Homo sapiens: one gene and its partners. The protein of the gene in region 2 interacts with the protein of the main gene of each other region in a pairwise test. Each region holds a gene or a part of one and is shown on either strand. Other genes may lie near its edges. The genes, in order: SLC34A2, TEX264, TM4SF18 and SLC10A2.

What was found.
Region 1: the proteins of TEX264 (region 2) and SLC34A2 interact in binary tests that used the Homo sapiens proteins (3 or more experiments, as listed by UniProt).
Region 3: the proteins of TEX264 (region 2) and TM4SF18 interact in binary tests that used the Homo sapiens proteins (3 or more experiments, as listed by UniProt).
Region 4: the proteins of TEX264 (region 2) and SLC10A2 interact in binary tests that used the Homo sapiens proteins (3 or more experiments, as listed by UniProt).

What each region holds. Positions count from the first base shown.
Region 1 is NC_000004.12:25,657,926-25,666,367, reverse strand, and holds part of SLC34A2 (sodium-dependent phosphate transport protein 2B), read right to left. Parts: intron 3,871-8,442; 5' UTR 3,868-3,870; coding exon 3,756-3,867; intron 3,664-3,755; coding exon 3,526-3,663; intron 2,167-3,525; coding exon 2,038-2,166; intron 241-2,037; coding exon 97-240; intron 1-96. UniProt on the Homo sapiens protein: Involved in actively transporting phosphate into cells via Na(+) cotransport.
Region 2 is NC_000003.12:51,694,294-51,702,735, forward strand, and holds part of TEX264 (testis-expressed protein 264), read left to right. Parts: intron 1-5,112; coding exon 5,113-5,281; intron 5,282-8,442. UniProt on the Homo sapiens protein: Major reticulophagy (also called ER-phagy) receptor that acts independently of other candidate reticulophagy receptors to remodel subdomains of the endoplasmic reticulum into autophagosomes upon nutrient stress, which then fuse with lysosomes for endoplasmic reticulum turnover.
Region 3 is NC_000003.12:149,317,272-149,324,352, reverse strand, and holds the end of TM4SF18 (transmembrane 4 L6 family member 18), read left to right. Parts: intron 1-1,916; coding exon 1,917-2,097; intron 2,098-2,860; coding exon 2,861-2,875; 3' UTR 2,876-5,855; downstream 5,856-7,081.
Region 4 is NC_000013.11:103,062,385-103,070,784, forward strand, and holds the start of SLC10A2 (ileal sodium/bile acid cotransporter), read right to left. Parts: upstream 4,034-8,400; 5' UTR 3,866-4,033; coding exon 3,489-3,865; intron 1-3,488. UniProt on the Homo sapiens protein: Plays a critical role in the sodium-dependent reabsorption of bile acids from the lumen of the small intestine. Transports various bile acids, unconjugated or conjugated, such as cholate and taurocholate.

The DNA of each region.
Region 1 (8,442 bases), on a different chromosome or scaffold from region 2:
ACATATTCAGAGTGAATTCCTCCCCCGTCCTTCCCACCCTCAGATAGACAGGAGAGTGTCTGGAATGCAGGTGGGCTCATGGGTGCCCCGACTCACATGAAGAGGACACCATGCTGACAACGATGGACGTTGAGGTGCTGGAGCTCTGCACCAAGACGGTCACCAGCACCCCGATCACCAGCCCCAACAAAGGGTTGGACATAATAGAGCTGTTGCTGAAGAACTGTCCTGCCATTTTTCCTGGGAAAAACAAACAAACAAACAAAAACAATCACAACGTGATCGAGGGGGATTAGGTGGGCACTGAGTAAACAGAAGTCTCCATCCAAGGCCAGCTGGCTGTGGGTTGCAGAGTCCAGCCTCCATCGCTGCAGGCACCCAAGGAATCTTGCTTCCCCATGCCTCTTCCCAGTGCTGCCCCGATAAGGCAGGAAATCTACTAGCTGCCCACACGTGCCTCCTGTCTCTGTCTCTCTGCCCTGGTTCCCGACCCACTGTGAGCCCCTGGTTACTTTTGTTCCTTCACCCTGCATCCTCCCACTCTTCAAACACTCCTCAGTCAGCAAGCCCTTCTGTGCTCAGGAACCCAGCCTCAACTCCATACTGGGACCAGTGGGTTCCAATGAGCCTCCTGGATGTCTCTGGGGTGTATACCCAATTCAGATTTATCCTCCAAGAGTAGATCTCTCTATCCACCCTTAGCCCTAGCACCAGCCTGTAATTGAATGCTGGGAGAGTTATTCTCAAGAGTGTACCTGAGACCATCAATGCATTCCCAAGTCCATTGTATAAAGAAGGTGGAAGCCCAGAGGATGCAGGTGATTTGTCTGAGATAACCAGACAGCAAAGCCCCTAGCTGATGCTCCCATGGACCAGGGAGCCCAGAAGCAATGTTCAGGAGGCCAGGCACGGTGGCTCACACCTGTAATCCCAGCACTTCGGGAGGCGGAGGACGGGCGGAACAACTGAGGTCAGTAGTTGCAGACCAGCCTGACCAACACGGAGAAACCCCGTCTCTACTAAAAATACAAAAATTAGCCAGGCATGGTGGTGCATGCCTGTAATCCCAGCTACTCAGGAGGCTGAGGCAGAAGAATCGCTTGAAGCCGGGAGGTGGAGGTCGCGGTGAGCTGAGATCACGCCAATGCACTCCAGCCCGGGCAACAAGAGTGAAACTCTGTCTCAAAAAAAAAAAAAAAAAAAAGCAATGTCCAGGAAGTGTTTGCCCCTCATGCTCTCCCATGAATGCCCACCTCCCCAACTCTCCCAAGTCACACAGATGGGTTCCCAAGAAAGGCACCAAGGGTTGCAGAAATCCATGGTCCTTTGTGTCACCCAGATCTGAGACTGAATCTTACTCTGCTAATCACAGGCTGTGAGTCTCAGGGCTGGTTCATGATCTCTCCGTAAATGGGAGGGCTCTGGGAAAGAATGTTTGATAGAGGGCCCCCGAAAATGCCTGCACCCAGTAGACGGAGTGCTGCTTGTTTGTTTCTGACATCACCATTGAGGTACAAAGGGAACCAAGCACATGGTGACTTCACTCCTGGGTTCTCACACTGCATGGGCACACGCAGCCCTAAGGGCTGTGAAGGTAAGTACAATGGATGCAGATTCCTCCAGCCCAGAGAAGGGGCCCTGTCCTTCCCCCAGCAAGGGCCCATATTTGAAAGGGCACTCTTTCTCATTCCAGAATTCTCTCTGGTGTGGAGGATATAGGAATTCCTCAGCTAAGTCTGTATGTCAGACAACTTCCTGCCTGGGGTTTGTGGACAAACTCAACTGGCGGATAGCTTGGAATAGTCTAGCCCCAGCTCCTGGCCTAAGCCACCTGGGCCAAGTCATAGCCCTTTGTATAGGCCTCAGTTTTCTCTTCTATAACGGAAAGCATAGACTTCATAAATGATCTGAGGTCGGTTCCAGTCCTAAAACACTCCAGGAGGCTGCAGCTGGAGAGGGCTTGCTGAGTTTTACTCTCGGAACCACATTTCAAGATAATGCCCCTCACCCGCAGACCTCTCACCCTTTCATTCTTACCTCCAACCAGCTGGAAGGCGCTACTAAGAATATCCAGGGAGCACACGAAAAAGTAGAGAAATCCGAGAAGTAAAATCAATCTCCCAATCCCTTGGAAGAAACAGAGAATCTTCCCTTTGGTGTCTCTCTCTGCAGGGGGGTGGGATGGGGGGAGAGAGAGAAAGGCATGAAACTTTTAGTGTTGGAAACCCTGAGAAGTTTGGCAATGAGCTCAGAGCTCCCCCGACCTCCCCTCCCTTCCCAGCCTGGCAGCCGTTAAGTTCTTATGTCTAGCCAGCCTTACAGATGGGAAGCAGCCATCGCTGCAGCTTTCAAAGCAGTTACCGCTGTGGTCCATTTAGCTGAAACCCCTGGTAAAGTGCCTCTAAAGGATTTGCGTTTGGGAGGAGGGGTTCAATGTGGTCTGCGACAGAAAAACCAGGCTCCATGCTCAGCTGAGCCACAGTGTCACTGAGTGAGGCAGTTGACAGCACTAGCCACCTGCTAAGTGCAGGGTCGGAGATAATGGCTGTCACGTTCCAAACAGCACAGAGTATTTTCTAGAATGCAGCTGCACAGCAGCAATCAGCCTCAATTTATGGAGGGCTTGGGGCATCATACATCCTGGGATGCTACATCCTTAAGTGCTGTTTACTCCACTGGCTTTTAAAATGGTTCTCATCTTCCCCCTCCCAGCTCTTTCCTTCCTACCTCTCCTCCCCACCCCACACCCCAATCTCCTTTTTCCTCCTTGCTGTCTAGTTCACAGACAGACCTTCTGCCCTACATACATTTGGAAATGAAACAGTGATTGCTTGCATCCAGCTGTCTGGCTGCATATTTTCTTTTACTAGAAATATGCCCACATTTTGGTGAGGGGACCCCTCTGAAAGCTCTCTGAGAAGAGGGGCCTTTTCTGTTCATCACTGTATCCACAGCATCTCCAAAGCAGTACCTGGAACCTCATCACCCACAGCGAATTATAAGGAGCCAGACAATGTCCATCTTTGCTATAACCACAGTGCCTGGCACATTTGTTGAATGAATGACCCCCAATTACTCCAACATGCTTTGACTCTACCTCAAAGATGGGAGGGTGGCCGGGTGCTGTGGCTCATGCCTGTAATCTCAGCACTTTGGAAGGTCGAGGAGGGTGGATCACGAGGTCAGGAGTTCGAGACCAGCCTGGCCAACATGGTGAAACCCCATCTCTATTAAAAATACAAAAATTAGCCTGTAATCCCAGCTACTCAGGAGGCTGAGGCAGGATAACTGCTTGAACCCACGGGGCAGAGCTTGCAGTGAGCCAATATCGCACCACTGCACTCCAGCCTGGGTGACAGAGCAAGACTCCGTCTAAAAAAAAAAAGATGAGAGGGTGACATCCCTAGCCAGGACCCTTGCTTCAAGGGAATCAGAACAATGAAAAGGGGGAGGGACAGGAGGATGATGACACCGTGAACCACAGGAAGTTTCCCTCCTGAATGTCTCAGCTGGCCTCACTTTTACCTGACCACTTGATCCCCGAGTCCTGAAGAGTGGGTAGGTTCCAGGGGTCATCCACCTCAGTGGGCTCATCTATCAGTGTAGCCGTGGAGTAGGACGGCAGAAGTTCAATCTTGGTTACAGGTGCCTCAGTGTTATCTGCTGAAACAAGCAAAAGGGGTAATGAGGAATCAGACCTGAGTCTCCTGGGGTCCTCACAAAGGCCGATCTGCAGACAAACGAGCGACACTTACTTTTGTTGGTCTCTTTGCTTTTATCAGGGGCAGTGGGCTGCTGACCTGCGGCCCCTTCGAGGTACTTATCGGGGTTGGGCTGGGCATCTCCCAATTCAGGCCAGGGAGCCATGGTCTGTGGATGAGAAAACAGCTTAAAGCAGCAGTCATGGAAAGGAGGCACACCGAGATGCTATAAGAGGAAGAACCATTGGTTGCAAAGCATCAACTGGGTGGGGGTTTCGGCCGGAGGCGGCAGTAAAAGGAAGGGAAAGATTTCACACTTATGCCCCCTAAGTGTGGCATATTAAGCACCATATTTCCTCTGTGGTTCCCCTTCAAACACTCACCCAGTCGCTAAAGCAAACTACCTCGTACAGTGTTGAGTTAGCTGCATGTACCACCTTTAATCTCGTAAACTTGTTTTTGTCTTGACTCTCTCCTTCAGTCAAAAGCAGGGTGCAACGGGCACCGTGGCTCACGCCTGTAATCCCAGCACTTTGGGAGGCCAAGACAGGTGGATCACCTGAGGTCAGGAGTTTGAGACCAGCCTTGACAACATGGTGAAACCCCATCTCTACTAAAAATATAAAAATTAGCCGGCGTGGTGGCACACGCCTATAGTCCCAGCTACTCGGGAGGCTGAGACAGGAGAATCGCTTGAACCTGGGAGGCAGAGGTTGCAGTGAGCTGAGATTGTGCCATTGCACTCCAGCCTGGGTGACAAAAGTGAAACTCCTTCTCAAAAAAAAAAAAAAAGAAAAAGGCAGGGTGCAAGCCCATTCATCTTTGTTGTCTCATAGCATGCCAAATCCTCACAACCCTTCAATGGAACCCCATCTACTTCTTATATCAAGACAAGTGCACTGCAAATCTATGCAAAACCTTATCCAGTGGAATTTAACAGATTTATACAACTTAGTGTGTATGTGAATATATATGCAGGGGCCAGGCGAGGTGGCTCAGGCCTGTAACTCCAACACCTTAGGAGGCCAAGGTGGGTGGGTCACCTGAGGTCAGAAGTTCGAGACCAGCCTGGGCAACGTGTCAAAACCCTGTCTCTACTAAAAATACAAAAATTAGCAGGGGATGGTGGTGGGTGCCTGTAATCCCAGCTACTTAGGAGGCTGAGGCATGAGAATTGCTTGAACCTGGGAGGCGGAGGTTGTAGTGAACTGAGATCATGCCACTGTATTCCAGCCTGGGGGATACAGAGCAAAACTCTGTCTCAAAATATATAAGTATATGCAGGTGTTCATATACCTTCTGCGTGTTTTACCTACCACCCAGGCCTTCTGTGAAAAGAGTGATGGACCTGGTTTTAAAATCCAGCAGTGCCACCTATTAATGAGTGTGTATTTAGGCAAGTCCCTTTATGCCTCTGAGCATAAAGTGTCAGTTTCTCCATCTATAAAATGGAACAGTTCTTGCAGGGTTATGAGACTAATAGTGAAATTAAAAGTCTAGAAAGTGACTGGCATTGAGGAGGCATCCAATAAATAGCAGCAATTATTACTATGTCATGCTGTCTGGATTAATCATCCTTTGTTAGAACCACATTCTTTTCAGCCTTCAGAAAAGACCTTCTTACAATCTATTTTCTTCACAAGGCCTTTCTCAGTTACATGGTACTTGACACACCTCACATTCCAGTCCTTGCAGTCCTTGTTCTTTGACATTAGACAATTAGTCCTTGTCCATTAGACAAAGCAGTCCAAAAGATTGGAGAAAGGCAATTCACAGAAAAGGAACAAATGGCTAAAATGCCTATTAAAAAAGAAGCAATCCAGGCCGGGCACAGTGGCTCATGCCTGTAAACCCAACACTTTGGGAAGCCGAGGCAGGTGGATCATCTGAGGTCAGGAGTTAGAGACCAGCCTGGACAACATGGTGAAACCCCGTCTCTACTAAAAATACAAAATTAGCCAGGCGTGGTGGCATGCACCTGTAATTCCAGCTACTCGGGAGGCTGAGGCAGGAGAATCACTTGAATCTGGGAGGTGGAGGTTGCAGTGAGCTGAGATCACATCATTGCACCCCAGCCTGGGCAAAAAGAGTGAAACTCCGTCTCAAAAAAACAGAAGCAATCCCATATATTCAAACTAAAACAGTGACAACTATCAAAGTAGCAAAAAGAATTTAAGTTCATTATGCTATGCTGGAGAAGATGTTATGAGTTGAACACTGCTAGAAGCTCTGGAAAAGTTAGCAAACTGTCCAAAGTGCCTTATGTTCATCACACGTCTGTGACCCAGTCATTTCACTTCTAGGAATCAGGAAGCTAGGAATATTTCCTCTCAGAAATTCAGAAATACCTAACTTACTCTGATCACCTCTTCCAAGAGGGCTTCTTAGAGCCTGAGTCCACCTGACTCCTTTCTTCGTCAACCTATTTCCTGCTTACCAGACTGCAAACCCTACCAAAAAGTGGACTTTGTCTTGTCCATCACTTCATCTTTAAGGTCTTGAGCCCTGCCGGGCATATTTATGATAGAATGAATGTGATGTAGACCAAAAAGATATTTGCTGCTCTATCATTTACAGTGTGAAAAAATGAAAAAAGAGAAATTACTCCTTCTAACTATGGTATGTCCATGCATTGTAAGAGCATGCCATTAAAGAGGTTATACTGAATCAGTAAAACCATAGGGAAATGCTTTAGATAAACTTCACATCTAAAGCACTTCTTTTTCCCATTCACAGCATCATCTCAACAAGGCAGACAAGATCCAGAAATGTTCTCTGGAGGTAAAAGGGAGTGGTGAGACTGTGGGTGATTTTTTAAATTTTAGAAGAAAATTATTTTAAAAGATGCAACTCAACCTCTAAGCTCACAAAGGTAAGATGGCTCAGTGATACCTGGAGAGAGGCGAATCACAGTGAGGGAGGGCTGGCTCTGCAGAGGCCTGCCCCTCACTATATGCAACCCTGAGCCACTCTGAGCTTCAGCTTCATCATTGTAAAAATGGGGACAATACCATCTTGCTTACTGAGCTGTTATGAGGACTAATTGGTTAATAAGTGTAGGTGAGGCTAGAGCATGGTGCCTGGCAGAGTAAACACTCGGAACTCTTGTTTATTGTTCATGACACAATGTGGAAATGCACTGTGTCATGAACAATAAACAAGAGTGTTTATTACGTGGAAATGCACTGTGTCATGAACAGTAAATGGCCTCATTTCCACTGTGTGTACCCTAGACTATAAGCTCTTCATCTCCAATGCTCAGCATGGTAGTGGATCTCAGTTAATATTTGAATAAATGAATCCAAAGCCTGTGAGAGAAAGATGCTAATGTTTGTTTTGTGGCAGAGGAGTGTCCTATACAGTTTGTGACCTCATTAAATCTACCAAGGAAGGAGTTTTTCTTCTCAGTGTACAGACAAAGAAACTGAGGCACAGAGAAACAAAGAAGCTTGCCTCCAACTACCTGGAGCTGGTGTCAGGATATGAACCCAAGACTGCTGGCTCCAAAGCCAGAAGCTTTTCCACAGATCTCACAGCCAGGGGCAAAGGGAGGAGAAATTCTCCAGCCCTCAAAGCACCAGGGCACCCAGGGGCCTTAGGTCTAGGCACATTGAGGGCTCTGAGTGTTTTCGGATAGCTGGCTAGATTGGCATGTCTGCAGGTCACTCCCACATGATCATTCAGATGCTGGAAATGCCCGCCCAAGAATGTTGCAATGGATGAGCAGGAGGGGAGGGTGGTGGGGGTGGGGTGGGTGGGTGGGGGTGGGTATTAAATGGTGCAGGCAGAGAATGTACCCTGGAGCTCTGAGCCCCTCTAAGCCTTTCTCCTACCCCCATAGCCCTGGCGCAACCACTGCCTTGTTCTCTCCCAGCCTTCCCAAGGCCTCACTCCAGCACATTCTTGCCACCTGCCAGAAGCAGCAGAGGAAGGGAGAAGTCATCATTTGGAAGCTTTTTACTAAAGCCCAGGGAGGGGCTCCCCCGCTGCCACACTGGCCTCTATAACCGAGTTGCCTGTGTGCCTCACCCTCTTGGCTCCACTTCCTGCACCACATGGGCACCCACTGCCAGAAAGAGCTCTTATTCTTTCTTGAAGACCCAGGAGAGGAACTTTCTTGACTTGGCTCAGACTTGGGAAGCAGGGGAATGTAGGGTACCTGGCAGTCACCCAACCCCTACATTCGCATTGTTTGGGCTTCTCCAACCAAGACCTGTTCCTGGGCCCCTTGTGCCCAGAGCAGCAGTCAAGGCCATCTGAAGAAATGGGGAGAGGAGGAAGCCCAGGGCAGTGGTCCTGTGAGGAACCAGAACATGGACACACAGTCTCCCATCAGAATGGCAGCCTTCACAAGCACAGGGACTAGAGTATGGCCATTGTATCCCCAGCACATAGGACAGTGCTGGGCACATGGTAGCCAAGTAGTGTTTATTAAAGACTTTGTGCCTGGCACTTGCAAATTGGTGCACAAATTTACTCACAGCATTTCATGTATCTATGTAAACTTAGAGTCTCCTTTAAAATGAACAGTATCCTCATTCTATAGAGGGAAAAACTGAGCCACAGAGAGGTTAATGGCTTCAAATCACATAGGCACCACAACACTGCAGAGATAATTTCAACCTCATGCAGGCCAGTGTTCTCGGGATGCCCAGGAAAACTTTCTTGTACTTTGAAAGAATGACTCTGTGCTTCAAAAATTCCCAAGAGGGTGACGTCTCCTTTTCCTCTGCTTCCCTTA
Region 2 (8,442 bases):
TTAATTTTTGTATTTGTAGTAGAGACAGGGTTTCACTATGTTGGCCAGGCTGGTCTGAAACTTGTGACCTCAAGTAATCCACCCGCCTTGACCTCCCAAAGTGCTAGGATTGCAGGCATGAGCCACCGCGCCTGGCCAAAGAGGGAAAGAGGGAGGGAACGATAGGCCAAAAGCCTACAGCACCCGGTATTCCAGGCAGTCTCCCATCCAAGTACTAACTAGACCCGACCTTGCTTAGCTTCTGAGATCAGACAAGATCAGGTGCATTCAGGGTGGTATGACTGTAGACCCTTTATTTCATACTTGGGCAAATTGAGGGCCAGAGGGAAGCTACCGATTTGTGTAGCCAAGCCAATGCCCTAGGCTCCTGCCTGGGGTGCTCTCTGCCACTTCCTGCTTCCTCTTTTCCCTCCCTGGCCATCCTGTCTTACTCCCTGTCTCCTTTGCCTGCCATTTTCAGAGCTTTGGGCTCTGCTGGTGTGAGGGGAGAGTAGAGAGAGGGGAAGGTGCTCACCAGCCCTTCTGCAGGCTCTCCCTGCTGCTGTGGCAAGGCCCCAGAGCACCAACAGACAGGTCTGGCTTCTGGGCCAGAAGCTTTGGGGCAGCCTGGTGGGGGTGAGAGGAAAGTTTCCGGGCAGAATAATAACGTGCTACCTTCTAGCTGCAGCCTCTTGCTATACCTCCCCAAAGCATGCACGTGCCATGAAGACCAGCTGCCTGAGGGGCCTCCAGGGTTTGAGTCCCCACTTGCAGGGACTGCTGTGTGCAGGCAGGTGCATGTTGGTGTCTGTAATTAAAAATGAGCATGCATCACTTCACCCAGTGAGGAGACGCCACTACCTCGGGTGGGATGCAACAGCTGCTTGCTGGCTGTGCAGCTGCCTGGGTATCCAGCCTGGCACAGAAGGATAGATAGGACTGGGTAGCTCAGGGTGAACAGTAAGGCAAGGCCCAGGGCCCCTCAGCCAGACCTCATCCCTTGCTGGGCCTAGAGCTTATGTAGGAGATGTGACCCGTCCTTGGCCCACACATTGCCTCCTTCTTTTGGGCATTTGCAGCCACCTAGTTCTAAGCAAACCTCCAGCCTCTGGGTAGCCTGGGAGTGGGACCCATCATCAGCCTTCGTCCTGGGCCTGACCTCTTCTGTCTTCTATTTGCTCCCAATCCCTAGCTGAAGCCAGGGCACAGGGTGATGTCCTGAATACAAAGCACTAAATGAGGATAGTTCAGGTCCAGGTCCTCTCTCTTACCTCTTTTCTTCCTCTCCCATAATTCAGAAAGACCTGCTGGGGAGGCACTGTGGGTCCCGTGGGGGAAAGCTTGGCCTGGTGTATCAGTCTTGCCCTGTTGTGGGAGCCCTGAGCTGAATGGGGTAAATGCCTGCACCCTGCCCAGGAGATGAACTCAGGCTGAAGTGAGGTGGGAGTGTGTGGTGTGTCCCCAAGGTAGCTGACGCAGTGGCACTGTGGCAGCCTGTGTGAGGTGGGTGAGCTGCTCCTTCCCTTTTTTGCCAACACTCCTGAGTGAGTAAGCAGGTGTTGGTGCAGGGTGGGGTGGTGGTGGGGAAGTGCTGGTGTCTGGGGTCTCTTAGAAATTCCTGCATCATGGGTGGTGTCCCAAGTCCCCATCTTGTTTCTGCATGTGGAAGACCCAGGTGGGAGGGAAGGCCCGGAGGTGTGTCTGAGGGACTGGAACTCTGAATCCAGTTTCTGGCAGACCCTGGGGGCACCTTGGCATGGTTCACTGACTTTTGCCTGTTAGGTGGAGAGGAATGTGAACATCTGCAACTCTCCCACCTTGGAAAGAGGCTTTATAGTCTCCTTGGGTCTGTGTGTGGGAGTGAGCTGCTCTGGGCTGTGGGTTTGTTAGATGGCCAGTGGTGTCAGTGGCAGAGCACGTTCTCATGTCCTGGCAATGCTTCCACACACTGCTGGCTGTCTGGGCTGTGGAAGGGGATGTGCCAGGGCTAGGAGGACCCCAGGCCCACCCAGGCTCTTCACCAGTGGGACCAGCCCAGTGTGACCTTGAGCTAGTGTCCTTGGCCACTGGCAGTCTGCTCTCCAAGGGCTCCCTGGGGCTAACTGAGGGAGAGGCAGCTGGCCTCGCCTTCCTCCAATGATTTTCCAATATTTACTGGCTCATTGACATATTGCCCGGGCCATGGCTCCTACTGTGCAGCAAGGACCTGAGAGCCAGCCCATGGTCACCCTGTCTTCCCTCCGAGGTTGCACCTGGCTGGGAGGGAAAGGGCTTGTCCTCTCTGCCTGATCACTCAGGGACAGAGCATATAGCTTGTCCTGCCCCTCACCTTCCATCCCCAGCCCCCACTAGAGTCATTCTTGCTCAGTGGGCAGAGCATGCAAGGGAGAGCAGTCTCCCAGGAAGGGCCAGGGGGCAACTACAAGCCCCTTCTCTGCCTGTGGGCCTGGCTTAGAAGTTTGCTCCTTTGCCTTCTTCCTGTCCCTTCTCTGCCCAAGTCTGAATTTTGGTAGGACCTGGTGCATGTGCTATAATGATTTGGGGCTGAACAGTCAATGGCATTTTAATTAGCTCCATGCCTCCCTCCAGTAGGGAGGACCAGGGCCCCCAGGTAACAGCAGGTAGGACCAGGCTAGTTTTGGGCCTGAGGCTGCCCCTCCAGGGGTCTGGGAGCAGGCTCTGGGACCTGGTGCTCCCTGTGTGAGATGCTGTGAGGAGGGAGAGCTGGGCAGAGAAGGAAGGGCTGTGTCGCAGGGCCACAGTTTTCTCTCCATCCTCTGTCTCCCTTGATCCTCTGTTCTCCCTGATGGCTTTGAGATGAAGGCGACGGCAAGGATGGAGGATGCAGTTTCCATGGCAACGGGGCTGTCCACAGCCAGGCAACTTCAGAGCCGGGCTCTCCGGAGGAAGCAGATGCGCAGAACAGCCGCAGAGCTGCCTCCCGCCTGCCAACGAGGGGGCTGGCAGAACAGGTGGCACAGGGTGGCAGCCTGGTGCTGCCCAGCCTAGGGGAGAGGGTGGAAAGAGCAGTACTCCCTCTTATTATCTTGTTATGGCCAAGTTCCTCCAGAAGGGAAGCTAGGGAGGTGGCTTGAGTGTTGAGAGGGGTTGGGCTAGGGTCCCCATTGTCCCTGGAATCTCTGGGTGGACACAGGCTCTGTCCTCTGGGATCTTCCCCCAAAAGCCAAATGTCTGCTGCTCTTGTGATGGCCACTCAGCTACTACCCTTTGGGTCCTTTGTCCAGAGTGTGAGGATGTTGGTGAAGGCCATGCCCTGACTAGATTCAGGGATCCTTTTCTTTCATCTAGCTACTGGGGAAGGACCTGGACCTTCTTCAGGGGCCTCCCTGCCCCTGGCCTCAGTGACCTGGACCAGTTTGCTGAGTTGGGTTCAGGTTTGGCAGATGCCTGCCTCTAAGTGCTGGCATTGGAGGGGCCCCAGAGCCTGACAGCTCCTGCTTCCTGACACTGTGATCTTGTTTAGCCTCCTCCTGGAGACCAAGGCTGGAGTGGGTATGTGAGTGGGTAGAGAAGCAAAGACAGCCATCTGTGTGTTTAGAAATGGGACGTGTCAGGGGCATGGACTCTTGAGATGGAGGAAGCCCCGAGGGCACCCAGGTTGGCAAAGAAGATTTGACTCCAACTATTAAAAAATAATGACTTTCCTTCACCGACCTTGGAAGCATCAGGGCTAGGGTGTTCTACTTTGCTGTTGAGCACATGGAGACTTAGGATGGAAGGCTTTGCCTGGATCACCCATGGAGTCAGAGGCTGAGCCACAGCCAGACCTGGGACAGGCCATCCACCTCCCGCGTGGCCTCCTAGATGCACCCTCCCTTCAGCTGGCTGCTGAGGGTCCTAGCTAGGTAAACCTTTCAGGCTCACTCCTCTTTCCCTTTATCATCCGTGGGCTTGCTTTTAACCCTTCTTTGCTAGCTTGCTTTAGTTGAAGGAGGTTCCTCAACCCTAGGGTTGGCCAGGCAGGTGGACAAGTGGAGTCTTGGAGTGGCTTCTCCTTGCCAGGCAATAAGTCTCTCATTACTGCTAAGTGGAAGGCTCATTTCAGAGCTCATGGTGAGAGCGGGGCGAATGCTATAAATAGTCGTGTTGTGAAGATTGGCGGGTGAGCAGTGACAGGGCAGGGGCCTTGCAGTCATCATAGTGGGTATTTGTGCTCCTTCGCAGGAAAGGTGGCGGGGCAGGCTCTGAGTAAGAGGCAACTTGACCCCTGTTCTGGCTGTCCCTGCCTGCCTCAGGGTGGCTCTGGCATGTCTGTGCCCCTCCATACTCATTGGGGGATGGGGAGCACTGGATTCTGTGTCTAGGCAGAGGGAGGTGGAGTGCCTTTTGGAACTTGGGGCCCAAAAGGTGGTACATCAGCCCACTGGGTAATGTCCTGTGCTAGATCTACTTGTCCTACCTGACCTTCCAGTCCAGGGTCTCCCTCTTCCCCATCAGCTAAAACCTGAGTTTACATGTGAGGAGGTATGGGAACCATACCTGATAGTCTCAGAGGTTGACATAGCTCTAAACTAGCAGGGGAATGAATGGGAGTGGAAGTGGTGTTTAGCTGGCCTTGATCCTTGTTCAGGGTCTATAGTAGCATGTCTGCAAGAGCAGGGGCTGGAGGCCTAAGGACTGGGGGTGCTGGTCTTCTGATATCTGTGGGTCAGTCAGCGTTGTCCAGGGTGGAGAGGAGGTCAGGGCCAGGGGGTCCTGGGATGGAAAGTCTGGTAGGTGAGACCTTGGCTTAGGCACATGGGGTCCCTATCCTGGGGTGGTCCAGGGGTGCCAAGCTTCATGGCTCTGTGAGACCAGTGCCTTCTGGAACAGCTTTTTGGTCTCAGATGTACACATAGGAGAGCAGTGCCAGGCTCCTGGGTTCTTTTACCACCTGCCCTAGGGTGTCGTCCTGGGTCTTCAGACTATTATTGCACTCTGGACTATGGGGCCCTGCTGTTAGGGTGATCTATGTGTGCCTCCCTCAGCAGGGCTTTGGAACTTGGAAGAGGTTGAGAGGCAGAGCCAGCCCCTGGGACAGAATAGGTAATAGACAGTTCTGGGGGTCACCCAGGGACAAGTGAGTCAGGGGCCCTGTAGGGCTCATTCTACCTTTTGCCACTCTCTGACTAGGAGCGGAAGCTGTGTGCCTATCCTCGGCTGGAGATCTACCAGGAAGACCAGATCCATTTCATGTGCCCACTGGCACGGCAGGGAGACTTCTATGTGCCTGAGATGAAGGAGACAGAGTGGAAATGGCGGGGGCTTGTGGAGGCCATTGACACCCAGGTGGATGGCACAGGTACAGAAGGTGGGGTATGAGGATGGGGCCCTCCTGGAGCTCCTCTCTTCTGGACTCCAGGGGCTTGGTTGAGGAGGCTCCTCCCTCTCTGGGTTGGCACTGTGGGTGTCAGGCTATGCTTGGCAGAGGGAGGAAGGAGACCCACCTACCTGAGGACCCACATGTGGAGTTGCCTGTTCCCAGACACATGGATCTACATAGATGTGGATTCACACACATTACCTCCTGGCAACACAGATACAAAGACCCTGCCTGGATTCCCTCCAGATGCAGCAGGAGTACCCTTGGAAACAAAGATCACAGACAGCTCGATGTTCATGGGAGGGGGCTGAGGCTGCTCAGGAAAGGAGTCCCTTGGGTGGGGCTCAGCAGGAAGTAAGATTGGCATAGATCTGGAAGGTAAGGAGGGGAGCAAAGTGTTCTCTTGTCCCTCAGTACGGGCCCCACCCAGAGCCAGCTGCTTTCTCCCTGCCAGGGAACAACCAGGGAGCATGCAGAGGGGAGCCAGGAGATCAGTCACCTGTGCCTTTCTCCAGGGCCAGCCCACACTCCTGCTGGCAGCCTCAAGGCCCCAGGTCCAGGCTGGAAGGCTGCTTGCCTGCCCACCCCTCTGCAATGATCTGTGACCCCGGGCTGTCTCAGGCACAAGGGGGTCTGCTGGGTTACATCCCAGATGGTCCCAGGGGGCCTTATCCTTGGCCAACCTGGTGGAGTTTGTGACTTCTAGGAGTGGTACAGGGCTGTGGGGAGAGGAACTGTCCCTCCTCTCCTCCTTCTTTAGCAGATGCTCTGCCCATCCAGTCTTCAACAGCCAAGGTCACCCTAGGGAGACGTGTCAGCTAGGGCTGGGTAGGAGGGTATTGGGAGCAGTCTCTACTCCCTAGGGGCCTGTGTCCAACACAGTTAACTTCATCTGCCACTTAATTACCTCCATGGGGTACAGCTCCCTTCTGCCTGGTAGTGCCCGGCAGACACTCTTCAGTGCCCCTACTGTGGGCACAGGACATGGCACAAGGTCAGCAGGCCCAGGCAGCCTCCAGGGCAGGAAGACAGAGTGCCTTCACTTTACTGTGACCTCCCTCTGCTGCCTGCCTCCCCCTCCTTGACCCACCCACCCAGCTTCCTTCCCTCCCAAACACTGCCTGTCAGGGTCATTGAAGGACTGCTTGGCACCCACTACAGCTGGCTGTAGTGGCAGCTCCCACATTCCCCAGCTCCTCAGCCTGTTTTCCTCCCCTCCAGCCCGCCCACCCACTCCCTGGTGTTGGGGCCAAGGGGTCTGCCCACCTCTCACAGGGCCTGTCCTGACACCCCAGCGGGACTCGGTGTTTGCCCACCAGGTGCATGCCACTGACACAGCAGTTGGTGGTGGGTGCATGCAGGATGTCTGACTGCCCAAGGCTTGGCCTGTCCCTGCCCGCCTCCCTGCTGTGGCCCTAGCTTAGGCCGGGAGGTGAAAGGGGGTGATTAGCTGCCTTGTGCCTGTTATTACATTGATGTATTATTTAGCTTCAGAGAGGCGATGAATATTTGATCGTCTTGCACTGGCTGTGGGCAGAGCGAGAGGGAGGGATTTGGGTGAAGGGGGTGGGCTTCAAGTCCCCTGCCCCAGTAGTCGTGGGGATTTAGGTAGGGCCCTGCCTTGCCTGGTATCTTCTGCCCAGGGATGCAGGCATGGGACTCTGGGACCTCCTCCTGTGTAGATCTTGGTGGGGGTATAGGGATGCTACTTCCCCGTATTGCATTCCTTTTTTTTTTTTCTTCTGCGGCAAGGTCTGGCTCTATCGCCCAGGCTGGAGTGGTGCAGTGGCAAGATCTCGGCTCACTGTAACCTTTCCCTCCCAGGCTTAAGCTGTCCTCCCACCTCAGCCTCCTGAGTAGCTGTGACAAGAGGCGTGTACCACCATGCTTGGCTAGTTTTTGTATTTTTTATAGAGATGGTGTTTCGCCATATTGCCCAGGCTGGCCTTGAACTTGTTAGCTCAAGTGATCCTGCCTCAGCCTCCCAAAGTGTTGGGATTCTAGGGATGAGCCACCATGCCCAGCTGGATTCCTTTTTTTTGTTTGTTTGTTTTTAAAGACAGTTTTCCTTTTTTGCCCAGGCTGGAGTGAAATGGCATGATCTTGGCTCACTGCAACCTCCACCTCGTGGGTTCAAGCGATTCTCCTGCCTCAGCTTCCTGAGTAGCTGGGATTACAGGTGCCTGCCACCATGCCCGGCTAATTTTTGTATTTTTAGTAGAGATGGGGTTTTGCCATGTTGGCCAGGCTGGTCTGGAACTCCTGACCTCATGTGATCCACCTGCCTCAGCTTCCCAAAGTGCTGGGATTACAGGCGTGAGCCACCGTGCCTGGCCTCCAGCTGAATTCCTTTGCTTGAAGTGTATATATGTCTCCAGGGGCTGTCTTCATTTCAGCAGGCTGTCCTGGCCTGAAGGAGGCACCCCTAGGCTCCTTCCTCTGAACATTCCTAGCCTAGGAGCTGGGTGGTAGGAGGTAGCATGCTGGGAAGCAGGCACATTCCTATACCTGGGGTCCCAAGAGAGCCATTGGGTGGGTGGGCAGACAGAACATACAGTTTAATAGGGCCAGGGAGAAACTGTCTCCCTCCTTTGCTCTTTTCAGGCCTGCGGTCCCTGGGGCACTGATCATTATTTAAGGAGCAGTGAGGGCCTGGCATCCTGTCCCCTGGTCAGAAGAAACTACCCAAAACTTAAAGCTCCCCCAGCTCCCTGACCACCTCATTCACAGGCTTCTGTCCTGGGAGCCACACCTGGGGCCTCAGCAAGAGGAGGGCCCTGGGCCAGCAGCCTGGGCTTCTAGGGCTCACCTCACCTCTGCCAGTAGCGCCCAGAGGGCATATTCTGGGGGCTGAGTGGGTGGTGGGGGTAGGGAGAGACCCCAAATTCCCCCCTCTCCTAATTCTCCCACCCCCAACCTAGGCCCCATTTGAGGCTCAAGGAAAGCCCCAGGCTGAGTCCAGGCGCCAAGCAGACCCCAGCTGCACCTGGCTTGGCTCCAACACCATGGAGACAGTGGCTGGGGAAGCTGGCTAACCCCTCACCTTCTGTGATGTTTGACAGCTGACCCTCTCCCCATCATACAGGAAGGGTAGCAGATCCACTTTCTCCCAGTCTGGATTCCTGCACACAGCGAGCCTG
Region 3 (7,081 bases), about 98 Mb from region 2:
GATTAGGTGCAGGAGTTTGTGGAATGAGCCAGAGCTTATGCAGCTTATACTGGAGAAGGGTCTAAAGAGGTAGCCTTGCTCAGAAGGCTAGTAATTCAGTCAGGAGTCTCACAACCCAATCCCGGATCTCAGAATGCCTCACACTGGCATTGTGCTGGGCTTATTGGGTTCCCAGCACCAGATGCAGATTAGGAGGTAGCAGGGCCCAGAAAGAAATACAGAAGAGGTCCAGAATTCTAATGGAGTAAAATGAGGGAATGTCTGTACCATTCACTGGGGGAAGTTAAATTTTCTTCTCAACTCTCCATGATTAGCTTTATTGTTCAAGGCCCATGTCCATCTGAGGTCTTACATGTGCATCTAGGCCTACATGGCAGAGCTGCTTCTGTGACTGTAGCTGCCTTCATTCTGAAGATTTTTACATGGTGCCATATACCATGACCTTTCTTAGCAAACATGACTCTCCCTCAGGTCTCTCCTACTTGCATATCCATTTATAGGCTCTCTGCAAGAAGAAAAATATGGCTCTTTTTGCCCAACCCCACAGGCAGTCAGACCTTATGGTTGTCTTCCCTTGTTCCCTAAAAATCTCTGTTATTCTGCTCTTTTTCAATGTGCACTGATTTCATATTGTTCAAACCACATGTTTTACAATCAATTTGTACAGTTAACACAATTATCACAGTGGTCCTGAGGTGGTGTACATCCTCAACTTATGAAGATAACAGGATTAAGAGATTAGAGTAAAAACAGGCATAAGAAATTATAAAAGTATTATTTGGGAACTGATAAATGTCCATGAAATCTTCACAATTCATGTTTCTCTGCCGCGGCTCCAGCCAGTCCCACCATTTGGGGTCCCCGACTTCCTGCAACATTGCAAGTCATCTTGTTTTAAATTGCTAGATGATCTGTGCAGAGCATGTACTAGGAACAGTCTAGAGGAGGGATCTGGAGGGACTCATTTCCCTGGCAGCTGAGATGGAGATAGGGGTAAATGGGGGTATGAGATAGGTTTAGGGAAATTTAACAGAAAGCCACATCTGTATTGTACTTTACAGGTTCCAAACTGTTTGTATACACATTCTTACCAAATATTCACAATAACTCTGGGGTTAGATATTTTAACCCCATTATCAAGATAAGAGTCTGGAGGGCCAGGCGCGGTGGCTCATGCCTGTAATCCCAGCACTTTGGGAGGGTGAGGCAGGCAGATCATGAGGTCAGGAGATCGAGACCATCCTGGCTCACACGGTGAAACCCCGTCTCTACTAAAAAAATACAAAAAATTAGCCGGGCGTGGTGGCGGGTGCCTGTAGCTACTTGGGAGGCTGAGGCAGGAGAATGGCGTGAACCAGGGAGGCGGAGCTTGCAGTGAGCGAAGATGCGCCACTGCACTCCAGCCTGGGCGACAGAGCAAGACTCCGTCTCAAAAAAAAAAAAAAAAGTCTGGAGGCCAGAGGGGTAAAGTTCTTTGCTCAACATCCTGCAGACCCAAATCCAGGAATTCTGATTTCATATTCTGTGCTCTTTCCCATTGGAGACAAGAGCCATTAACAATATAAAGAAATTCTCAGAGTGCCTCTATTTCCTGGAGCATTAGAAAGTAGAAAATAAATAAAGGTGGGGAAAGAGTAAAAAAGAAGGAAGTAGGAAAGAAATGGAAGAGGGAGAAAGAAAAACAAAGAGGCCATGGGGGTGATAAGGCAAGCACAACATTTATAACACACTAAGTATCTAGCTCAGTGCTATGCATAAGATATGTCCAATATGTGTATCTGAATGGTTTTTAAAATGTATTAATTCATATCTAATAACTATATATTTTAGTTATACAGTAATTTCTCAAACATACAAATGCTTGTAGCTTTCTTCCTTGGACCCAGTATGTAGATTTGGCCATGGGTCTCTCTCAGTTTCCTTACAGATTCTAGCATATGGATTCAGTGCCTGGAACCTGCACATGTTGTGGAGTGGAACATCATTTTATTTTCCATTCTCATAACCCTCAGTGGGCTTCAAGTGATCATCTGCCTCATCAGAGTAGTCATGCAACTATCCAAGATACTGTGTGGAAGCTATTCAGTGATCTTCCAGGTAACAGATTCTCATGGGCACCTGTAGCTCATCCATATTTCCCCCACTTCCCAGGATTCAATGAGGCTTTTTGAAAAGACTCTAGAATTCCATCACTTTCCCCCCATTTCTATTGCCCTCATCTTTATTCAAGCTCTAATATCTCAATTTTTTCTGATATCCCAATGTGTCTTGGCTTATCTATAAGGGTTGAATCAACTCAGTAATTGTAAAATCTGCATTTCTTGTTGTATGGTAAGGCTTCATAAGTGTTTTGAATGAGCAAAGTTTTAGTGTTCTACATAGAGATAACTCAAAGCATGATGAAATTTTACCATTTATCAAGAATTTCCCTGTTCATAAGTTAAGCAAAGGCTCAGAACCTTATCTCATTGAAATAACTTCTCTTCTGAATGCTGCTACATTCAACTAATGAACCTTTATCTCGAGTGCATAGGAGTGCTTTTGAAGAAGAAGGGAAATATGTATTTATCCCATTGAAACTACTTCTACTTCGTCTGCTAAAATACTAATGTTAATTTAGTTATGGTTGAAACTGCTATCAAGAAGTCCAGAGTGAAGAAAAATTATGAATTTAGATGGCTTGTATTTTGTTTAACAACAGAATGTGTAATACCTTTCCTAGCAATTTCTAAGAGATGTTTTTTCTGTTCTATCATATTTTGAATATGAAATATAAGTTTAAGTTGCTATCTGGATTACGGATTACTAATCAAGCCAAGTTTATAACTTTAATCACTTTGTTTTTCCTTTTTTCCTATAGCCTGGAATCATTTGAATAAGGACAAAATGTTTTCCATTATCAAGACATGGCCATCTATCTAAATATTATATCAACTGTGTAGACTTGAGGGCAATATTGAAATGATGGTGCTTTCTGCATTTGGTGTTTATTTGTAAAAAATTTGCAGTCCTCACTGCACATGCAAGTATACCACCCTTCCATTTAGTATGTTTTTTAAGTAATATGCATCAGAAACTTCAGAAATACTTCTGCCCTTTGATCAAACAAATCCATTTCCAAGAATCTGTACTAGGGAAGTAAATAAGAATATGAGAGAAACCTTTATGCAAATATGTATATTGCAACATTATTTAATATTCTGGAAAATTGGAAACACCCCAAAATTCTAAACTCAGAGGAAGGATTAAGTAAAGAGTGGTACATACTGTAAATGTTTTCTGATATTAAAAAAAAAATTAAATAAAAAATAAAGAGTACTACATGGTTGTAAAATTACAGTCATTACAAATGATGTTTTTAAAATTATGAATAATGCTACATCAAAAAGCAGGTTACAAATTCATGTTTACTATATAACTATTTAAAGCAAATGAAACACTAATAGTCAAAGTTTAGGATGAAAACTAAATCTAAAAGGAAATATAACAAAATGCCAATTATGCTTGGTTTGGGGCATTGATGACCCTTCTTCCCACTTTTCTATATTTTCCAAGATTTCTTTATTGAATATGTTTTACTATAAATATTTTCTAAACTCATATTTTCACTATTAAAATTTTTTTATTTTTCCAAACTTTAAGGCATATGCTCTTTCCACATTCCTCAACATTATTTGCAAACATCATGAAATGACACTTCCATCAACATTCAATGAGGAAAGTAGTGATATAGATGAGCCAAAAAGAGTTTTATATAAACTTATACAATCTAAACTCTTGCTCTTCCTTTCTGACTCCTGAGGGTGAGTGTGATGGACTAGAAGAGGTAGCCTTAAAATAAGTGAGCAGCTAGGGAACATGCTCAATGGGCAAGAGAAAATGACCACTGACCAGTCAATACCTGTGTCAGGGGGAGTTACCAGTACCTATATTTATTTTTAAAGTAATTAAAAAGTAGAACACTTACAAATTTTCCACCTATACATGCCATGTCTTCCTCGGGGACAGTAGCCACATCTTATATATTTCCCACCATGCATAGGACCCAGCACACAGTGAAGCCAGTAGGCACTCAGTGTTGAATGCTCATACCAGGTTTTCTGCTTCCTGTAGTTACCCTGCTGAGCACTGCTTCCATCACAGGTGCACTGGGCCTCAACACTTCTGCCATTTCCCCATTTGTCTCCTCCATGGACACTGTCAACAATGGTCTGTCAACACCTGCTCTGTGCCAAAGCCAGGGAGTAGGCTGGGGGGATACGGAAGAGAATATCTTTCTCCTTGATGCCTGCTGTGCCAACAGCCCCCTTTAAGCCTTGTTCACAGCCTTTGCTGAAACAAGCATCTTGAAAGCAAGCCATGTTATACACCGCATGACCTTCATGCTCTGGGCCCAGCTGACTGAACTGGGGCAGGCCCCAGAGTCATGGGCAGCCTATTGTCTTGCTAATGGCCTCTGACTTAGCCTGGAGTAAAACACTGTCCAAACAAGACTGGTGGTTATTCAAGCATAAGAATTTGAACTAGGAAGCCAAGAATGAAGCAACCGGACCATTACCATCAAAAAATGATTAAAGGATGAAGAAGGAAGCCAACATTCAGAGAGTATCTGGTTCATGTTAATAATGGTATCATATTAAAAGGAAGATACATGAACTTCTACTCCAAAAGCTCCTAAAACTGCCTTTGCCCACAATGAACAGTGTACCCTAGGCCTGGTTTCTGTTCTTGGATTCCTAGATAGTCTTTCTTCTTTGTCACTGTGCTGATCATTTCAGTAAACCCCCGACTAAATCAGTGCAGCTCTGTTTATTGCAACTAAAACGATCCAAATGAAGTCTCCCTTTTCTAGATGTTGGGTTGGAGGGATGCTAAGACAAAGATGCTTAGGCTCCAGAGTTTTACAGAGCTTCATTCAATAACACTCTACTTTCCAAAGAACTTAAATATGAGGTCTGAAGGACTTGGACCAAGAGGCAAACCCAAGCTACAGACACCATGTTGTACTCAGAGTGACCTCTCCCCTCTGACAGCCCAGGATTTCTCTATCAAGTCCATAAGCTAGTCATATCTAGGACCATCTTGTTAAAAATTCTCTCAAAGTCTCCTCAGCCCTCTTGTAAACAGACTTCTGGAAGGTCCACTTCATCAGTTTGTTATATACTTTCAGACTGTCTATCTCTTGTTTAGATTCAGCATGGCACCGTACGTTGAATGGACTGTTAATAGATGTTTGCTGAATGACTCCACCACAGCATTGGACACATCAGGGGTACAGCCAAATGCAGCATGATACCTCTATCAGGAAAATTAAATTTTAACACAGCCACCAAATATTCTATATTTGAAGAGTATATGCTAATCATGCAATTTTAAGTAAAAAAAAGCTGAATACAAAAAAAGCTGAATATGTGTTTTATATCCTCGTGAATTCAAAGTAAAAAGGAAAAAAAACTCAAAAACCAAATATATGTATGCAGTTTGAGCCCAAATTTTTAATTAAGTAACCATATAATTACATGTAGACATGTATAAACCTTGAGATATGTAAAGACCAGAAAAATATTTAAAAGTTAATAGTTACATCATCTGTGGTCACAACACCCTGAAAATGCCTAATATTGGAAACTTAAGCAGGATTGATCCAGGTTATTACTTGGATGGGAGACCAGATGCTATAGGCTGAAAAAAGAAAGCATAAGTACGCACAAGTTAATACTTAATAATTATCTCCTAATGATAGGACTATAAGTTCTATCTCTTTTCTTTACATTGTTCAGTATTTTCAAATTTCCCTTTGAAAATGTGTTATGTACTTGAATTATTAGAAAAAATAAATGTCATTTAAAAAGCAATGGTCCTCTAATTCTTTCTGTAAAATTCATTTAAGGAGTTAAAATAGAAAATATATATAGGTATGTATATGACTGGCCTTCTCTTACCCTTTCCAGAAATAATCTTTCCACTTTTTAATTCTGAGAGTATTATGAGCTAATCCTGATTGAGAATGATTTATGTTTTATGCATTTCTGCACTTATTATTTATCTACTGTTCTCCTTGCTTCTATCTCATTGTTATTTTCCTAACTTCTTAAATAGAATACCTAGCTTATTGATTTTCTAACTTTCTTTTTTTCTTAAAATAAGCACTTAAGACTAGACATTCTTTAATTACCACTTTGGCTGAATCTCACAAGTTTTAAAATGTTGCATTTTCCTTGTTTGGTTATAAATATTTTCTAGTTTTCTTTATGATTTATTTTTTGATCCATGAGATTTTTAATGTGCTTTAAAATTTCCAAGTATATGGCTGGGCGCAGTGGCTCATGCCTGTAATCCTAGCACTTTGGGAAGCCGAGGAGGGCAGATCACAAGGTCAGGAGTTCGAGACCAGCCTGGCCAACATAGTGAAACCTTGTCTCTACCAAAAATACAAAAAAATTAGCCGGGCATGGTAGTGGGTGCCTGTAATCCCAGCTACTCGGGAGGCTGAGGCGGGAGAATCGCTTGAACCCTGGAGGCGGAGGTTGCAGTGAGCCAAGATTGTGCCACTGCACTCCAGCCCGGATGACAGTGTGAGACTCCATCTCAAAACAAACAAACAAACAAACAAACAAACAAACAAACAAAAACTTTCCAAGCATATGAGTTTATGTTATATTTTTATGATTTGAACTCAATTGTATTATGATCGTAGAAAGTGGTCTGTGTGATTCCGATAATTTGAAAGTTTTTAAGATTTCTTTTATGATTACTTTTTGTAAATGTTCTATGTGCTGTAAAAGTATATGTTTTCTCCAAATATTGAGGGCGGAATTCTATATGCATACTAAAATTAGGTCAAGTTGTTAATTTTGTTCAGGTCTTCAATATTCTGTTTGGTTGTTTGCTTGATTTAGGGTTGCCGTGAGGATTAAATGAATATATAGAGAGAGTAATTTTATACTTTTATTGATATACATATCAGAAAACAGTATTTGGCCATGGATATGATTTATAAGTGGCCTATAGCACAGTGGAATAAAGATGTACTTTGGAGTCAAGTTGCTTGGGTTCAAATCTGGGCTCTGCCTTATTAGGT
Region 4 (8,400 bases), on a different chromosome or scaffold from region 2:
GCAGAAAATAATAGTACTAACTTTAGAGGATTCTTGGGAGGATGAAATATACCAACTTATTTTGAGTACTTAGCACTGTGCATGGCATATACTAGTGTTTAATAAATATTAGCTAGTAAAATCAGTGCTACTGGAGAGAAACAATGTTTGGTTACTTTTAGGGAGAATAAAGGAAAAAGCCGAATGGTTTTGGGTTAGGTCTCCCAGAGTAGAGAAGAGAAGGACATTTATGGGGTTGACATAGGAAGGATTGATTGCTGTGAATTTGTGGTAAGCTACAGGGTGAGATTTCTTGAATATCTAAAATATCAATGAATGCTGCACTGGAAGCTGAAAAATCTAACAGCATTTGCCCAAAGAACAAAGGATGTGGTAGGAAAGTCTGTAAAATAATAAAAAGGAATGTAGAAAGTAGGTGGCAGGGAAGGAACTGGGGGCAACTGGGAGAAGGATGCATAAGAATGGATTCCCCAAAGAGGAAGCCAAAGAAAGGAAATGAGAAGTCCTTGCATGGTGTCGCTGAGGCCATTAAGAAGGATGAAGACACCGGATATTTGCCTGTGTCTGGGGAGAGAGCAGACAAAAAGGAGATAGGATGTTTCTGTGTCCTCTCAACTATGGGTTTTGGCCACAAGCAGATTCACCTGAAAAGTCACCATCTCTTCTCCCTGATGCTTTTTGTGCATGTGATGTCCATGGCACAGCTGCAACTTAGGTGAAAATATATGTGCACCAATCAGATTCACAAACTCCAGGCTGGGAGTGGTCAGAGAAGGAGCTGAAATAGTACTTGCTGGATTCCAATGATCAAGGACTATTGTCTATTTTTTTTTTGTTTTTCAAAGTCACTAGAGATTGCAAAATGCGGTGGCTTTCCAGGTTCATAAGAGATGACAGAGTGAGAGAGAAATGTTTTGGTTTCTTCTCCCAAGAACCATAACCAAGAGAGTTAAAACCAGGTGGAATGGTTTTGCTGGCATTGTGTGGCATTAGCTCAATTAGTGTAGCTGCCTGTTAACATAAACAGTCATGTCTTCATGCCATTGCTGGAGTTCAAGTGGAGATGGAGAAGGTAAAATTCTAAGTGTACACAACTGGAAATATAAATGTTAGATAGGATTGTATCTAAGTAAATTATCAGGAGACTTTAGTTATCCAGTTCTTAATCCAGAAGAATAAAAAGTTTTGGAAAACTGTTACGCAATAGCTCAGGTTTTACCCTTTTAATTAATTTGTATTAAAGAAATATTGGAATATTGTTTTCCTAACACACAATGCATAATGTCATCATCTTACATAGCAGTATAATTTAACCTCTTCTCAATGATTAAGACCGATCATGATAAACATGATTATCGGTTGTTCTAAAATACCGTGACATCTTCTTGTGTTTGTAGAAGAGTAAGTGATACAGAGACCAGAGACTGGAATAAGTGCTACAGAAACCAGAGAGAATAATTGATAATTAAGAGAGAATATGTGATAGAGAGAATAAGTGATAGAGGATAAATGATAGAGAGATGGCTGTGTGTTGTCAGTGTCTGCTTTGCTTTGCAGGCATTTGATCTTCTCTTTTGCCCTTCCTAACACTCTGCTTCCTTCCCCGCTTCTTATTTCTGGGAAATAGCACAACAGAACTTTAAAATAAAAATAGTTAAGTCGGTCCCGCATGAGGAGCATTTATGAGATTAAGTGAAATTTATTTTGGGTGTGCAGTGTCTTTTATTGGGTCTTGTTGAGCTCTGGATAGGTGAGGTTGCTCCATGTTGCGTTACAGGGCTTATTTTGACTTGCTGGAAGGATTCATTTGCACGGATTTAGCTGGAGGTTTCTACCAAAGCTTCATATTCTACTTTTAGTTCTTATTAAAAAAAATAATTTATAGGAATTGTTATGCTAGGTGGACAGGATTACATAATCATCTCCTGTTTCAAGAGAAATAAGATTTCCTTAAAACCACAGAAAAATGTAACTTGGAGCTTTTAGGTTAGATCTTACTGTTTTTAGCTCACAGAAGAGAATTCATTTCAACAACCTAATAGTCCAGTACCACACACGTTTTTTTTCTGTCTTATAAAAGGGTTCCATATGTGGTATTACATTGAGGTACAAAACTCCTCTGCACTAAAAGTTACAAATATTATGAGAAAGCTGTTTATTGGGGGTCAAGGCCCAATGTTCCAAGTAGTTCACTTTTCTCAGTGTAACAGGTGCTGGCATTTAGAATTCTCACTTCTGTGTACCTGTGTCCAGGTCAAACTAAATTGAGGTCTAAAAAGACCTTATTGCTATATCGTGGTTCACAGATTAACTAAACCTGAATAGCACTTGCCATCCTATGTTGTTTTATAGGGCTTTCCTTAAAAAAAAAAAAGCAATTGCAAGGTGGATATCATGTGTTTTCTTATGTGAAAGACTAAACCATATGAAGGTATAGGGTTTGTATGACTTTTCTAAAGCTTCTGGAGAAACCAGCACCAGTTGAAATGAGACAGCAGGTTCCTAATTGATCACTGGGTACTCTATCAATCCAGTGTTTACAATTCTACACTTTGTGCTTCTCTCCTCTGCCAATAGTAGCTGGGGATGAACAGAGCTAATTGCCTACTGTACAGTATTTAATAAGCACACGTTGCATTAGCACCTGGATGGTTTGCAGAAGGAAATGCATACCTTTCAAGGGAAATGAGGAATTGTGAGCTAAGGAAAAAGACATTTGTCTATTCAACTTTTAGCATTAAATTTCTCAATCTAGTCACATTAATGCTTCATCTTATTTCTATTAGTTTTTTTTTCCAGTGCTAGTTCAGACTGGCACGGGATGAAATGGGCAAACATTGCAATTTAGATTACTCTGTAGGAAGTGGAGAAAACGTTTTCTGTTTATTTTGTAGTAAGGTAAGCATAATTTTAAAAAAGCTGCTATAGGCTTTTTCCCCCACTTTTAATGCCAGTAGAGGTGAAGCAAATTTACAAATTCTTCCTTAGGTTTTATACCAGGAAAATGTTTGCCCAAAGAACTGGCTATATTTGATGGAGTTGACCACTGTCTCACTACAGGTTCTAATGTTTGACAAACAGTTTTATTTTATGATTGCACCCAGAGCTCCTCATCATTACAAAGAAAGTGTATTTTGCTTTTTTTTTCCTGCTACCAACAGGATAAACCTCCTCAGCTGCAGCTTGTGGTTTGGAAAAGATTACTTTTTTAAAAAAGCTTTGAATCTTTTCCTAGAGATCAACAGCAATTATGCAACTCCCTGTTAACTGAGTTAGATTTAAAAACACAAACACAAAATATAAATCCCCCAATTCCAATAGCTAAGCAGCTGTGCTAGAAGGCACGGGAATGCATTTATTCTCTCCTGTTTGATTCCTTAGTCATACTTTAGATGCGTGGCAAATCAGTTGGACATTCAGAATGCCATAGGCTTCTGGAAGGATTACTCCAAGGTGATTGCAGTAGTTAGAGGTATAGATAATCTTACCTCAGGTCCATGTCGCCATCGACCCAATAGGCCAAGATATTGGAGGCAGTTCCTCCAGGGCAGCATCCTATAATGAGCACCACTACGGCCTGGAGCGGGAGGATGTCAAAGGCCACCGACAGGATGAATCCTGTGAGGGGCATGATTCCAAACTGACAGAGGAAGCCAACACAAATGCCCCACGGCCGCTTTATGTGCCCTAGAAATTTCTTGATTTCCACGTTGCATCCCATGGAGAACATCACCAAGGCCAACAGGATGGTCAGCACCGTACTTAGGACCACACTTAGGATGTTATTGAAATTGCTCTCAGGTACCACACAGGATGCACCAGAGCAAACTGTTGCATTGTCCACACAGCTGTTCGGATCATTCATTGCTGGGTCTGCTGCTGGAAAGGCCAAGTCCACAGAAGCGCTGGTCCCTGGGCCCTGGCTCTGCTGCTGGTTGAGTTAAGCAACGTTTACTTCTACCCCATCAAACTTTTAAACCCCTCCTAAAAATATGTCACTTGGTGTCTCTTTTGAAAGCCACCTTAGGGAAGTAATAAAAAACAATAAAGCTAGGATGTCAGTTTCAAGAGGTAGCATTACAACACAGAGCACGTTGTGAATCACAAAAGTCCAGCAAAATTATTGGTCAAGACAGAGAGTTACGATTAATCATTTATTGGCATGATAATGAACCATGCCATATAAAAAGAGCCACGTTAATGTTTAATGTCCTCGAGGGTTTGTTGGATAATTTCAGTTAAGTGACTTTTAAAATCAACTCTGAATAGTACAGAATCTTATAGGGATTGAGCCATAGGAACCATGCCATATAAAAAGAGCTGTGTTAATGTTTCATGCCATGAAGGTTTGTTGGATAATTTCAGTTAAGTGACACTTAAAATCAACTCTGAATAGTACAGAATCTTATAGGGACTGAGCCATAGGAACACATATTGTTCTCCCATTTCCCTTTCAATAGAAGGGTTTAGGGCCCTGAATAGTTGAGTGCCCTGTGCCTAATTATGTTGCAAATCAGGTGTCAGACTCTGAACTGGGACCCAGATCTCCATCCAATTTCCACTCCCAGTAGTTTTGCTACTGTATCAGTGTTTCCTGGAATTGCTTTGTAGTGTCCATAAAGTATATGGAAATTTAAGAAACTTCTAGGGTCTTGGTGCAAATCTGAGAGAGTAACATTTGGGAAGATAGAATGTTTTCTGTGTTTCCTGGTGGAAAGGAGTCTGACTTGCACAGCCACCCTCAACTACTTACACATGCAATTATGTGTGCGTTGTCATAGTAACAGAGTACTTTATAGATGGAGACAATACAATTATTTAGAGGGATGAACCTCAGAGAATTAGGTCAAAGTGACAGGATCTCTTTGTGCTTGGAGTCATAAATTGAAATTCGATTTTTTTTTTTTTGGCAGGGGGATTCCAAGAGAGATTTTTGTAAATGTCAAATAGTCGACCTCATGCTGGGCAGAACGCTGTATTTCAGTATACAGGGAAGATAAAGAAAGAGGTAGAGAAGAGATTGTCCTGTTTTCAGGAGTTTATAACCCAGTTATTGAGTTAGGACACAGAGTAATAATAAAATTGAATATTCCGATCATGATTCACAATTTGTAGGACAAATTCTAATTTATTATTCAACTTAATCATCTTAAATTAAGTAGGATTAGCACTCCCATTTTACAGATGACGACTTAAGGGTTGAGGAAATTGAGTGCTTTAGATAAGGTTAAAGGGAAATGAGAGAACAACGTGTTTTCCTATGGCTGGTATCTGGAAATACTGGAACCGAGCGTTCTGATTATGTGAAGAAAGTGGTCGGTTTGGCTTGCTGGGGATTGGAGTAATATCTTAGAACAGAGCTTCTCAAAACTCAGTGTGAACAGGATTCCCCTGGGGGCCTTGTTAAAATGCAAATTCTGATTCTGGAAGTCTAGGGAGAGTTTTCTTTCTAGCAAGCTTGTAGTTGATGGCGATGACACTGATCTGGGGTCACACTTTTAGTATCATGGCTTCAGAATAGCAGAGTGACAACAGTTGTACCCATATTGGTGACAACGGAACTTACCGGTCACAACTGAAAGCAGCTTTTGCAGAGAAACTCAATATGGGAAAATTAACCTTTTTCATAACTGGAGTAAATGTGAGCTGTGGCTAGCAGAATGGGCCACTGAGCAGAAGAGCTAATAGAGTGAAATGCCCAAACCACAGGTGGGGGTGCCTAGGCATTGAGCTACTGGGAAAAACCTGAGCCATTTCCTTCCAGGGCAACCGTGATTTGTACTTGTTGATGTGGCTATCTGAGTGGTCACGTCCTGCCTGCCTTTCTAGCACAAGTGGGGGCTGCCATTGTCCCTGACCTGGCTGCCTGCCAATTCCTGGGAGAGCCTTCTGTCTTTCCCACCTCCTTCCCCACCCCAACAGCTAAATGATAAACCAGGTAATATCCAAAGAGGCCTCCCCTCCCACTCCTAGGTGTATCATGACTTGGCCCTACCCTGCTGGCTGCTCCAAGCATTTCCTGGGACTGACCTCTGGCCTACTTCTGTCGGGAGCTGGCCCTCCCCAGGGCAGATGAGCCAAGTGCACTCCCTGCTGCCACACCTGAGCATCTGCACCTAGCCGCTCACACCTGGGCACCTGCACCTGAGCACCTGTGGCTGGCTCTTCCCCCAACTCCCAAAGGTGGGTGAGGCAGATGCCCATGCAGTGGTGATCAGTTTACGGTCTCTCTTTTCTGATTTCTCTTAACCTCAAACATTAGGTGAAAGGCAGAAAGCTAGCCTAGGATTGAACGGCAAATAGCCTCTTCACCAGGTCTGATCTGCAAAGGAAAATTTGAGCCCTGCAGGCGGGAAGGATTTGGATTCTGAAATTTCTCTTAAAGTTGGAAGGCTGCAGTGCAAGGCCCAATGCACAGGGCTCAAGACAAGCATATTTAGACACCCTCCTTTGAACTCAAATGGGTTTCCCAGGGCAGGCCTCCTGTTTTGGGCCATGGCTGCTTCTGGGTTGGCCAGGTGTGATCCATACTTAGGCTTTTTGCTCACAGTGCTGGAAGCAGGGAAGAAAAGTGAAGGGAGCAGAAAGCAGGTTCAGAACAAAGCTCTTCTCAAATTTCAGATGACTTTCTAAGGAGATTTTAGGCTCCCAGGGGCAGAATGCTTTGCATATAGACAACTTGCAAATGAGCAGTCTGTTTGACTAGACAGAGTGCTACAGTTCTGCTTAAAAAAAAGTGCCAATGCATTTCTAATTTCACATTGTTTTTACATAAATTTGCACATTAGGCTTGAGAGGTTTTATATTCAAGTATCGGAATGATTCACAATTAATTAGTACCCTTAACTTCAGCTATATTCAAATCCAGACACTGAAAGTATCTAAATATATAAAAATCATTCTCAGGAAACAACAGGTGCTGGAGAGGATGTGGAGAAATAGGAACACTTTTACACTGTTGGTGGGACTGTAAACTAGTTCAACCATTGTGGAAGTCAGTGTGGCGATTCCTCAGGGATCTAGAACTAGAAATACCATTTGACCCAGCCATCCCATTTTACTGGGTATATACCCAAAGGACTATAAATCATGCTGCTATAAAGACACATACACACGTAAGTTTATGGCAGCACTATTCACAATAGCAAAGACTTGGAACCAGCCCAAATGTCCAACAATGATAGACTGGATTAAGAAAATGTGGCACATATACACCATGGAATACTATGCAGCCATACAAAATGATGAGTTCATGTCCTTTGTAGGGACGTGGATGAAATTGGAAATCATCATTCTCAGTAAACTATCGCAAGAACAAAAAACCAAACACCGCATATTCTCACTCATAGGTGGGAATTGAACAATGAGATCACATGGACACAGGAAGGGGAACATCACACTCTGGGGACTGTTGTGGGGTGGGGGGAGGGGGGAGGGATAGCTTTAGGAGATATACCTAATGCTAAATGACGAGTTAATGGGTGCAGCACACCAGCATGGCACATGTATACATATGTAACTAACCTGCACATTGTGCACATGTACCCTAAAACTTAAAGTAAAATAATAATAAAATTAAAAAAAATAAAAAATCATTCTCTTTAATTGTAATACGGAATTGGAAACAGATGCACACCTGAGAGGGGTAGTCAGGAGGCTGGAGCTTCATTTTCGTCGTCATCCTTCTCAGTCTTTTCTGCTACATTTTGTCACACCCTGGGCTCACATGCAGGCCACCCTCAAGAAACCAGGAGCCGGTTCCTGCTTCTGGCCGCCTGGGCGCAGACATGAGAATTTGACATCTGAGGCTTCCCTTTTGTTCCTGTGTATCAATTTGAGGAGGCCAGGGTTCAATAGCTTTCTAGCATGTTTGCCCTGAGGTTCACATGATAAAAGATGAGCTTCCTATCTTCTATTGTGTTTCATCACAAATGGCTCTATTCAGATCAATGGCCCTCTTGGATTTGATTGACTCTGTTAAGTACTTTCCTGTGACTGAAGTTATCTCCCTCTCTCTCCTCTCTAGTTCCTTTCTACAGATTGATCTTTTATGAAACCTGAAAGTCCCACAATTAGAGCTCTTTGGAGTTACCACTGACCCTCTTTAAGGCAACAAGTACCTTGGGGAGAATGCCCCGTGAATGACTAGCTATTCATTCTTGAGTCTTTAGAGGGAAAAGGCAGCATAGTATTGAGGAGAAGAAAGTAGGATAGAAGAACCTGGAATCTACTGGATGGAAAATGCACTAGGCTTGGAATCAGAACTGGGTTCTAGATCTGCTTCTTTTGAAAATACTGTGCAGACTATTCAGGTTTTTATGAATGAATGTGAATCCTTATTAAACATCTGTAGGATGGTCCCACCACTTTGGAAAATGATTATAGCTAAATGTCCATATG